Homo sapiens: one gene and its partners. The protein of the gene in region 2 interacts with the protein of the main gene of each other region in a biochemical or structural test. Each region holds a gene or a part of one and is shown on either strand. Other genes may lie near its edges. The genes, in order: PRPF40A, DHX9 and PRMT1.

Region 1 (3,751 bases), on a different chromosome or scaffold from region 2:
CATATTTAGTCTTGTTTGAAGAGGAGTGAGTGCAGTTGTAAGTGCCTGATGTTACTTTGGGACAGCTCTATCCAATAAAAATGTGAATGCCACAAATGCGATTTTAATTTCCTATTTATTTTAGTAATTTAACCCAATATAACCAGATATTATTTTAACACATCAATATTTTTAAAAATTGCTAATATTTGTGGTATTAAATCTTCAAGATCATTGTGTATTTTGTACTTAACAGCACATCACAACTCAGACTAGCTACATTTCATGTACCGAGAAGCTACGTTTGGTCAGTGGCTACCTTATTGAACAGTGCAGGTATAGGAATTGTGGGAACAGAATATAGGGTTACAGTTTCTTTTAGGCACATTTGTGTATAGCAGCGGTCCCCAACCTTTTTGGCACCAGGGACCGGTTTAGTGGAAGACAGTTTTTCTTGGTGGGGTGGGGTGGGGAGTTGGTATCATCAGGCATTAGATTCTCATAAGGACCACACAACCTAGATTCCTGGCATGCTCAGTTCACAATACGGTTTGCAGTCCTATGAGAATCTGATGCCGCCACTGATCTGACAGGAGGTGGAGCTGGGGCGGTAATGCTTGTTCCACCACTCACTTCTTGCTGTGTGGCTTGGTTCCGGTTCCGTGGCTGGGGGTTGGGATCCCCTGGTGTATAGGATTAAACTCCCTGAGGATTGGGTTGGAAGCAGGAAGTGTGGAAATTGAAACTAGATATGGGTTTGAATCCTAGGTCTCCAAACTACTTTGGGAAAATTATACATCCTCCTCTTAAGGCCCCTTGTTTTTTAAAAGTAAATAAAAATACCTAGAACACATTAGGCACTATTTTTAAAGACAGAAAGTATATATTTAAGGAAACATGCATATACATTCTTTAGCCTCATCATTTGAGGTAGATATCCAGTAATTTAAGTTAACTTTTACCTTTTTTTTTTTAAAGCTAAAAATTAGGTTCTATCTTAAAGGGTAGGAAATAGAACCTTAGGAAGATAATGTGCAGTTTCAAAAGTTATTTTCTCTAAAGGACAAAATATTTTTTTGCCTAGAGGCAGTTGTTACTTTGCCCAAATAGCAAATATTCTTTGTGCCCAAACAGGTTTGGGATAACATTGGTAGAAGAGTTTTAACTATGTCAAAGTTTTTGTGTGTTTTCATGTTAGACGCTTATTTCTCATGTACTCGAGATGACTTTCCAAATATAATTTTTCTCCCTAGATATTTTTAGATGAATTACATGAACATGGACAACTGCATTCTATGTCATCTTGGATGGAATTGTATCCAACTATTAGTTCTGATATTAGATTCACTAATATGCTTGGTCAGCCTGGTAAGATTATTTTCTTTCCTAATTTACCGTTATGGTAGTAGTTGAAATGGGCCAAATGCAAAGGTGATTGTGTTGGGGGAAAGGGTGCTTTATTTTTGTTTTTTAAACAACAAAGTAATTGCAGCTCTTTGGTTAGAGCTAGCTTTTGACTTCTTTAGTTTTTTCATTAGGATCAACTGCACTTGATCTTTTCAAGTTTTATGTTGAGGATCTTAAAGCACGTTATCATGACGAGAAGAAGATAATAAAAGACATTCTAAAGGTAAATATATTTATTCTTACCTTTTAACCAATAGTATATCTTAAAAGTTAGTACTGTATTCCTTTGATTTATGCATTATTAATGTTAAGATTTCTTTTTTTTAGGATAAAGGATTTGTAGTTGAAGTAAACACTACTTTTGAAGATTTTGTGGCGATAATCAGTTCAACTAAAAGATCAACTACATTAGATGCTGGAAATATCAAATTGGCTTTCAATAGTGTAAGTTATGTTTTCTGTTGTAAGTAACTAGTTTAGTAGTATAGTTTTTAATTTATTCAGATAAAAGCAGCTAAGTTGCAGAGTGTTGGAATAAGGGAATATGAATAGAATTTTACAGAGTGGTAGCCAGTCTTTCAGGTAAGGTAAAACAAAAAACTTTATTTAGATGATGGATTGATATTAAACTTCCTTTGCTCAAATTAACTGGTATTATACATAAAATGGCCATTATAAATCAGGCCTTGGGCCACACATAAAGTACACTAACGATAGCTGATGAGCTTAAAAAAAAAATTGCAAAAAATCCTTATAGTGTTTTAAGAAAGTTTACAAATTTGTGTTGGGCCACATTCAAAGCGGTCCTGGGCCACAGGTTGGACAAGCTCGTTTTAAACAATGCGTGATTCCTAAATTAACAATAAATTATTTCAGCTAATAGTTATGATACTATTATAACTGATTAAATATGATTTTCTTAATAGTTACTAGAAAAGGCAGAAGCCCGTGAACGTGAAAGAGAAAAAGAAGAGGCTCGGAAGATGAAACGAAAAGAATCTGCATTTAAGAGTATGTTAAAACAAGCTGCTCCTCCGATAGAATTGGATGCTGTCTGGGAAGATGTATGTATACTTGTTATTTTTTTCTAATGGAATTCTTTTCTTTACAGTTGAGAAATTTAAAATATTTTTATTTTTCATTTTATAGCCACAAAAATAAGCTAAATTTATTTGTAGAATATATTAAATATATTTAGAATATAATAAAAGCATTAAATCAGCTGTTGACTCTGTTTAGGAATATTTGTAAAGAATGGTTTGGACTTTTGAAGGGAGGAAATAATGGACTTTAAGGGGACTGATTCATCACAGTTTTCACTTGCTGTTATGATTTATTTTAGATGTATCGTTGTACTTTTCTTGGTATTCATATATTTATTTTGTATCTGAATTTTTCAGATCCGTGAGAGATTTGTAAAAGAGCCAGCATTTGAGGACATAACTCTAGAATCTGAAAGAAAACGAATATTTAAAGATTTTATGCATGTGCTTGAGGTAATTTTAGAATTCTCATATACAAAATATATAAAATATAAACAAATTGAAGAACTTAGAATGATGAAAGTATGTTGCTTAATATTCACTGCTTTTATACAAATGTACTTACCTGGATGGTTAGAGAATGGTTTTTTTCCTATAAAAACTGCTTTTAAGTAAAAGAAACTATTAAGTTTCCATGGGAATATAAAGATTTGTATGTGAAGACTGTTTTGTATTTTTAGAAAGTTTTAGAAATTGAGCAGTTTGGCAGCCACATGGATTGATTGACTAATAAAGAAAACTTGAAATTTTTCTTGTAAAGCAGATAGAAGACAGCTTTTAGGCACATTTGAGGTATTATACCACATTAGCTGTGTAGAAAAGAAAGTTTCTGGAAAGTAATGGAATAAATGGTAAGTTTTTGTTAAAATAAGCAATGAAACAATAACATCTCAGGTCACTTTAATAGGTAAGGTTCACTGGGCACGGTGGCTCACGCCTGTAAAACAAGCACTTTGGGAGGCCAAGGTGTGTGCTGATCACCTGAGGTCAGGAGTTTGAAACCAGCCTGGCCAACATGGCGAAATCCTGTCTCTACTAAAAATACAAAAAAATTATCAGGGAGTGGTGGCGGGCACCTGTAATCCCAGCCACTCAGGAGGCTGAGGCAAGAGAATTGCTTGAACCCAGGAGGCGGAGGTTGCAGTGAGCCAAGATCATGCCACTGCACTCCAGCCTGGGCAACAGAGCGGGACTCCTTCCCCAAAAAAAAAAAAAAAAAAAAAGTATTTTGATGACAGTTTCAGTTAGGCCCTTGTAAGTATGCTGAATTGACCAATAATTATTGAATAATAGTATTCGATGCCTATGTGGGCCAGTGTTCT
Region 2 (3,751 bases):
TTGATCATGTATATGTACTTTTCATGAAGTTCAAATCATACCGTTTTGTATCCTTTTTCTTACAACATATAAACGTTCCAATTATGTCGTTAAAATTTATGGGGAGTCTTAATAGCAACATGATAGAATATCCTATGTTTAACCCAGATTCAGTAATCTAGATAATTGGTTCCTCCCAGTTTTTGCTATTATAAATGCTGTTTTTAACTGACTTTTGTTTTCTTAGATCTGAAGAAGACACTTGAATCATGGGTGACGTTAAAAATTTTCTGTATGCCTGGTGTGGCAAAAGGAAGATGACCCCATCCTATGAAATTAGAGCAGTGGGGAACAAAAACAGGCAGAAATTCATGTGTGAGGTACTGAAGAATACAGTTTGCATTTATGTGATTTATGAGGTTCATTTTGGGGTTAAAAGAAAAATGTTTTCTGTTTGGAGATGTTAATGTGTTGCACATTAGGAAACGACAGTTCTTTATTGTGACTTGACTGCTATTGTAAATCATTTTCAAGTCAGCATTACTTTTAAAACAATCTGACAGGTAAATTATTCTAATTAGAGCCTATATCTTCCTCAGCTTCCTCAGTACCAGTAGTGGGGATGGGAAAAGTTGGATCAACTGTTTGCAGTTTTATAAGCACGTTTAGAAAGCAGAGCAATTCTTGATTGCTTCAAATCAAAGTGCTTAAATACAAATGGAGAGCTTGTTCATGGATATTACAGAATCAGATTTTAATGTGAACCTTCTGTTATATGAGAAAAAAAAATCTGAGCCACTTAAATTATTTTTGGATACAACACAATTTAAGCTTTTTCAGTAGCTCATGCATTCTCTTATTTTTATATTTATATTTATAGAGTATATTTCCTAAAGTTAGCTGTTTGTTGTCTCTTAATGGACTACTGAATTACGACTTTTTAAAATCTCAGAATTACCCAGGTCAGTCTCTTAGTACTTTTTTTTTTTTTTAAAGGTTCAGGTGGAAGGTTATAATTACACTGGCATGGGAAATTCCACCAATAAAAAAGATGCACAAAGCAATGCTGCCAGAGACTTTGTTAACTATTTGGTTCGAATAAATGAAATAAAGAGTGAAGAAGTTCCAGCTTTTGGGGTAAGTACCTATGGCGAAGCACTTGAGATGTATGTTGTAAAGTTGTACAAACTCAATATGCGTAAGAGACTCAAGATAGTAATTTTTCACTGTTTTCAGATATATCGTGTTTCGTAATGAAATTTGGCATCTTGTTTTGTCTCAGCACTGGACAAAATTTCTGAAGATGTGGATTGCATCCTTATTATATACCTGTCTTAGGGGCTTGAGAAATTCCATTAATCTTTGTGTCTTATGGCTTTATTTCATGTATTTATACACCAGAAATTTCAGAGTCTGTTATGTTCCATTCATTACCAATGATAATACTTTAAATAAAATAGAAAAATCAGTAATATTTTAGACATGTTTGCTCCCATTGACACTCCCCCTGCCCCGTAAGCGATGAGGTCTTGCTCTGTTACCCAAGCTAGAATGCAGTGACACAACCATAGCTCACTGCAGCCTCAAACTCTTGGGCTCAAGCAGTCCTTCATCCTTAACCCCCTTAGTAGCTGGACTACAGGTGCATGCCACCACTTCTGGCAAGTTCTTTGTGTTTTGAGGCAGAGTCTTGCACTGTCGCCCAGGCTGGAGTGATCTCGGCTCACTGCAGCCTCCGCCTCCTGGGTTCAAGCGATTCTCCTGCCTCAGCCTCCGAGTAGCTGGGATTACAGGCACGCTCCATGATGCCCAGCTATTTTTTATGTTTTTAGTAGAGATAGGGTTTCACCATGTTGGCCAGGCTGGTCTTGAACTCCTGACCTCAAGTGATCCATCCACCCACTTCCGTCTTCCAAAGTGCTGGGATCACAGGCATGGGCCACTGCACCTGGCTGACATGTCCTTATATAACAAAATAGTATTTTATGCAATGGAGTATTTTTGTGTTTTTTATGTCATGATTATCTTAATTATATTACGTAAGTATGCAACAAATACCTCTGTCTAGTAGGTTGTTTTGGGGGATTTTTGTTTTGTTTTTCTGCCTTTTTTCTTTTTGGGGCTCAATCAAACTCTTGGCCTCAAGCCATCCTCCCACTTCAGCTCTTCCCCAGTAGCTGGGACTGTGGGTGTGTGCCGCTACACTAGGCTCTAGTAGTTTTTAAGAAATAAGGTTTTTTTTGTTTGTTTGTTTGTTTTGTTTTTTAAGACGGAGTCTTGCTCTGTTACCTAGGGTGGAGTGCAGTGCTCACTGCAACCTCCACCTCCTGGGTTCAAGCAGTTCTCCTGCCTCAGTCTCCTAAGTAGCTGGGATTACAGGCACCTGCCAACATGCCCAGCTAAATTTTGTATTTTTAGTAGAGACGGGGTTTTACCATTTTTTGCCAGGCTGGTCTCGAACTCCTGACCTCGGCCTCCCAAAGTGCTGGGATTACAGGTGGGAGCTACGGCGCCTGGCCCACGCCCAGCTAATTTTTGTGTTTTTAGTAGAGACAGATTTTCACCATGTTGGCCAGGCTTGTCTTGAACTCCTGACCTCAAGTGATCCGCCCCCTTCAGCCTCCCAAAGTGCTGGGATTACAGGTGTGAGCCACTGTGCCCAGCCTGTCTATGCCAGTTTTAACAGGGTCCTGTTACTGAATTTTTGTATTCTGCCTTGTTTATGACAGTATTCTGACTCGTTATGAAAGAAATCTTATTTCCTTCCATTCCTTTGACTAAGAACTCGATAGACTTACTTTCCGGTAGATTAACTGCTGGGTAATTATAGTATCTTACAGTCTTTAATTTTATTGGTTTGCCTATCTGTAAAATGAAGGGATTGGGCAAGATCATCTTAAAAATGCCTTCTGGTAGAGAAAACAGTTTTGCAAATGTCTTTTACATGTTTGAAGTCTCCCTCTATTCTTTATCTTTTAGGCTCTTCTCTATGGTCTTGTAGATCTGCTAGTGACAAATTCTCTTATTCTCTTTCTGAAAATATTTTTATTTTACCTTCTTTAAGAATATTTTCACTGGATGTAGAATTCTGGGGTACCAGATATTTTTTTCCCTCTTTTGGTATGTAAGTGGAAAAAAAAAAAAACAATTTTCCTCTTCTCTCATACCACAACAATCAACAAAGAAGATTTCTGTGACTAAATGTGGGGTGGAGGTGGGGGACTTTTTCCACACACCCCAAGCAAGCAATCAGTTCTGCAGCAGTCACTAGCAGGGTATCCTCCAGTTCAACTCTGACACTACCTGGAGATAGCGTCAGACTCCACAGGGTGAGGACTCAGTCCCACAAGACTCCCCAGCCCCTTCAGACACCACTTGCAAGTCTGGGCCTCTAGAACTTCTGACTGACTAGCTTCAAGTTATGGTTTTCATGACTGCCTCTTTGGGGTCAGTTAATTTGCTAGTGTGGCTCACAGAACTCAGGAAAACCTACATTTACCAGTTTATTATAAAGAATACTACAAAATACAGTTGGTGAAATAAGTAGGGCAAGATATGGCGGAGGCAGCAGGGAGCTCCCATGCCCTGCCTCGAACACCATTCTTCAGGAACCTCCACCTGTTCGGCCATTTGGAAGCCCTCCAAACCCTGTCCTTTGGTTTTTATGGAAACTTCATTATTCAGTATTGATTAAATCGTTGGCCATTGGTGACTTGACCTTCAGCCCTTCTCACTTCCCCAGAGGCTGGGAGGTGGGACCGAAAGTTTCAGC
Region 3 (3,751 bases), on a different chromosome or scaffold from region 2:
TCCTTAACTCCACCTCCAACCCCCCTTTGCCCTTCCCTGTGTCTGCCCCCATTTTCCTTCCCCTCCCCTCCCCAGCTGTGGGCTGAGCTAGAGACGGGGTCAGAGAGACTGGAGAGATGGTAGGCGTGGCTGAGGTATCGGGGTGCTCCCCTGGATGGTGCTCTGGGGGGGTCCTGGAAGTGGAAAATGGGGTTGTTAGGTTTTGGGGTTCCTGGGGGGGCAAGATGGCAGGCGGGGGCTGTAGGGTTGTCATGGTATGATTTTGGGGGTTCTATACTACTCTTCAGGGAAAAGTAGGGCGCTGGAGGTTTAAGAGGCTGTGGGGAGCCCCCAGATCTGACCCATGATCCCATCGGCCCCCTCCCAGGTGTCCTGTGGCCAGGCGGAAAGCAGTGAGAAGCCCAACGCTGAGGACATGACATCCAAAGATTACTACTTTGACTCCTACGCACACTTTGGCATCCACGAGGTCAGTGGGGACAGTCCCCAAGGCCCCAATCTTAGGGGGGCTTAAATGTTGGGGAAGGGGTGGAACCTGTTTTCCCACGCATGCGCACTGCTTCCCCTGGCCGCAGGCCGCCCCCCTGCCCCTCTGCTGCGCACTTCCTAGGGTCGCCTCGCCAAGCCGTTGCCTTGGAGACCGAGGTTAGCCTGAATCTCTGCAGGGGCCTCGCGCCGAAGGCTGGGGTGGGAGAGCGCATGCGTGCCTGGGGCCTTAGCCAGAGGTCGGGCAGGGCCCACTGGTCTCTGCCGCCCTCTAGTGACCGGCGGTGGGACTGCGCCCCGGCTGCTCCCGCCCTAACAGCTTCTGCACACTTCAGATCTGACTGAAGACACTGAAATCCCAGAACGAAGCTGGGGTGGCATTCTAAGGAATTTTCTTTTCCCCCTGAGGCCTTTTTCATAAAATTGTGGCAAAATATGCATAAAATTGCCATTTTTTATTTTTAGAGACGGTCTCGCTCTGTCGCCCAGGCTAGAGTGCATTGGTGCAATCATGGCTCACTGCAGCCTCGACCTCCCCGGCTCAGGTGATCCCCCCACTTCCACTTTCGGAGTAGCTGGGACCACAGGCGCGCGCCACCACGCCCAGCTGATGTTCTTATTTTTCTGTAGAGATAATCTTGCCTTGTTGCCCAGGCTGGTCTCAAACTCTTGGGATCAAGTGATCCTCCGGCTTTGGCCTCCTGAGGTGCTGGGATTACAGGCGTGAGCCACCGCTCCCAGCCTGAGGACTTTTAAAAGCCAGGGTTCACTGGTTCTTAGGTAGCAGTGGTGAAGTCCGGCCAAGATTGGAGTTTAGACCATCTAATCTGATTTTTTAAAAAGGGAAACTGGCTGGGCGCAGTGGTTCACGCCTGTAATCCCAGCACTTTAGGGGGCTGAGGTGGGTGGATCACCTGAGGTCAGGAGTTGAAGACCAACCTGGGCAATATGGTGAAACCCCATCTGTATGAAAAATACAAAAATTAGCCGGGCATGGTGGTGTGCACCTATAATCTCAGCTACTTGGGAGGCTGAGGCAGGAGAATCACTTGAACCCAGGAGGCGGAGGTTGCAGTGAGCTGAGATTGCACCATTGCACTCCAGCCTGGGCAACAGAGTGAGATTCCATCTCAAAAAATAAAATAAAATAAAAATAAATAAATGAATAAATATAAAAGGGAAACTGAGGTGCATGGAAGAAAGCGAGAGGGCCGAGCTCTGGCCCTCCGAGCTCTCAGGACACGCTGTTCTCCAGCTGGGGATATGGGGCCCCTCACGGCGTCTCTGTGCCATTCTTGCCCTAGGAGATGCTGAAGGACGAGGTGCGCACCCTCACTTACCGCAACTCCATGTTTCATAACCGGCACCTCTTCAAGGACAAGGTGGTGCTGGACGTCGGCTCGGGCACCGGCATCCTCTGCATGTTTGCTGCCAAGGCCGGGGCCCGCAAGGTCATCGGGGTGAGTCTCCAGGGTGGCCAGGCGGGGCCGGGCCTGAGGGATGGAGGGGAGCCCATCAGGGCTCAGGGATTGGATGGAGGTGATGGGGGCAGGGGATGGGTCTCACCCTCCCTTCTTCCTGGGCCCTCAGATCGAGTGTTCCAGTATCTCTGATTATGCGGTGAAGATCGTCAAAGCCAACAAGTTAGACCACGGTGAGCCCAGAAAGAGGATGGGTTTGTGGGAGTGGAGGGGGTGATGCCCTGCTTCCCCAGGGCCCTCTGAAGAGCAGTGGGGTCTACAGATGACCACAGATTCAGCAGCTCCCAACCCATGGTCTTTTGGGCTGCCGGCCGCCTGAGAATCTGAGTGTCAAAATCACAGGCTTAGCACCGCAGTCTTAAAATTAGGGCAAGAAGCACTCTCTAGTTTCTTGAATGAGTAATAGAGTCACGTGGTTGGCCACGGAAGGCCCACAGTGAGAAGCCTTCCCTGTTTCCCAGCTGCCCTCCTCTGAGTTTAACCAACACTAACTTCCAGAGAAGTCTGGACCTACAAACACATACATACGTAAATGCATTTACATTCTCGTGCATAATTTTCACGCCAGTAGCATTTCATACCAGCCTCTTGCCCTTGGCTTCTTACACCTGCTTGTCATGTCGTTTAACACTTTCCAGGATGTTGCGGCATCCGCTCTTTTGCATGACCACCATCATAGGTACATCCCCAGCATTTTTTTTTTTTTTTTTTTTTTTTTGAGATGGAGTCTCACTCTTTTGCCAGGCTGGAGGGCAGTGGCACGATCTCAGCTCACTGCAAGCTCCGCCTCCTGGGTTCAAGTGATTCTCCTGCCTCAGCCTCCCAATTAGCTGGGATTACAGGCGCCAGCCACCACGCCCGGCTAATTTTTTTGTTTTTTTAGTAGAGACGGGGTTTCACCGTGTTAGCCAGGATGGTCTCGATCTCCTGACCTCGTGATCTGCCTGCTTGCCTTGGCCTCCCAAAGTGCTGGGATTACAGGTGTGAACTTTTTTTTTTTTTGTATTTTTTTAGTTGAGACATGGTTTCACCATGTTGGCCAGGCTGGTCTTGAACTCCTGACCTCAGGTGATCCATCCACTTTGGCCTCCCAAAGTGCTGAGATTACAGGCGTGAGCCACCGTGCCATCCTGAAGTGATTTTTAAAAAGAGATTATTATAATGAACGCACGAGTCCATTTGAAGCAAATTCCCACTGTGATGTAATTTTCCCGGTAAATGCGTCTGCTTGTGTCTTATCTAATAGATAAAGGCTGTTTTGAGAATGTGATCATGCTGTTACTTATTATATCAAAACCACCCAGTTAAAAACAAAATCGCGGCCGGGCACAGTGGCTCACGCCTGTAATCCCAACATTTTGGGAGGCCGAGGCGGGCGGATCGTGAGGTCAGGAGATCAAGACCATCCTGGCCAACACGGTGACACCCTGTCTCTACTAAAAATACAAAAAATTAGCCGGACTTGGTGGCTGGCACCTGTAGTCCCAGCTACTCGGGAGGCTGAAGCAGGAGAATGGCGTGAACCCGGGAGGCGGAGGTTGCAGTGAGCTGAGATCACGCCACTGCACTCCAGCCTGGGTGACAGAGCAAGACTCCGTCTCAAAAAAAAAAAAAAAAAAAAAGTAACATCACCTGATACCCAGTCCACATAAAATTTCTGCTCCTGCCTCAAAAATGTCCAGAACGATGTATGAATTTTAAAACTGTTAGAAGGGTTCATGGCTTCTGCTCACGCAGTTCTCTGAACTGAAGTGGGGTCCCCAGGCTCTAGCCCCCGGGGGAGG

What was found.
Region 1: the proteins of DHX9 (region 2) and PRPF40A form a complex in vitro, tested with the Homo sapiens proteins (one study listed by BioGRID).
Region 3: the proteins of DHX9 (region 2) and PRMT1 form a complex in vitro, tested with the Homo sapiens proteins (one study listed by BioGRID).

What each region holds. Positions count from the first base shown.
Region 1 is NC_000002.12:152,661,734-152,665,484, reverse strand, and holds part of PRPF40A (pre-mRNA-processing factor 40 homolog A), read left to right. Parts: intron 1-1,232; coding exon 1,233-1,347; intron 1,348-1,505; coding exon of another isoform or gene 1,506-1,517; coding exon 1,518-1,609; intron 1,610-1,713; coding exon 1,714-1,830; intron 1,831-2,312; coding exon 2,313-2,450; intron 2,451-2,786; coding exon 2,787-2,882; intron 2,883-3,751.
Region 2 is NC_000001.11:182,842,319-182,846,069, forward strand, and holds part of DHX9 (ATP-dependent RNA helicase A), read left to right. Parts: intron 1-226; 5' UTR 227-248; coding exon 249-359; intron 360-975; coding exon 976-1,116; intron 1,117-3,751. UniProt on the Homo sapiens protein: Multifunctional ATP-dependent nucleic acid helicase that unwinds DNA and RNA in a 3' to 5' direction and that plays important roles in many processes, such as DNA replication, transcriptional activation, post-transcriptional RNA regulation, mRNA translation and RNA-mediated gene silencing.
Region 3 is NC_000019.10:49,680,120-49,683,870, forward strand, and holds part of PRMT1 (protein arginine N-methyltransferase 1), read left to right. Parts: intron 1-20; exon of another isoform or gene 21-116; coding exon of another isoform or gene 117-134; intron 135-367; coding exon 368-469; intron 470-1,790; coding exon 1,791-1,946; intron 1,947-1,997; exon of another isoform or gene 1,998-2,076; coding exon 2,077-2,140; intron 2,141-3,751. UniProt on the Homo sapiens protein: Arginine methyltransferase that methylates (mono and asymmetric dimethylation) the guanidino nitrogens of arginyl residues present in proteins such as ESR1, histone H2, H3 and H4, FMR1, ILF3, HNRNPA1, HNRNPD, NFATC2IP, SUPT5H, TAF15, EWS, HABP4, SERBP1, RBM15, FOXO1, CHTOP, MAP3K5/ASK1, MICU1 and NPRL2.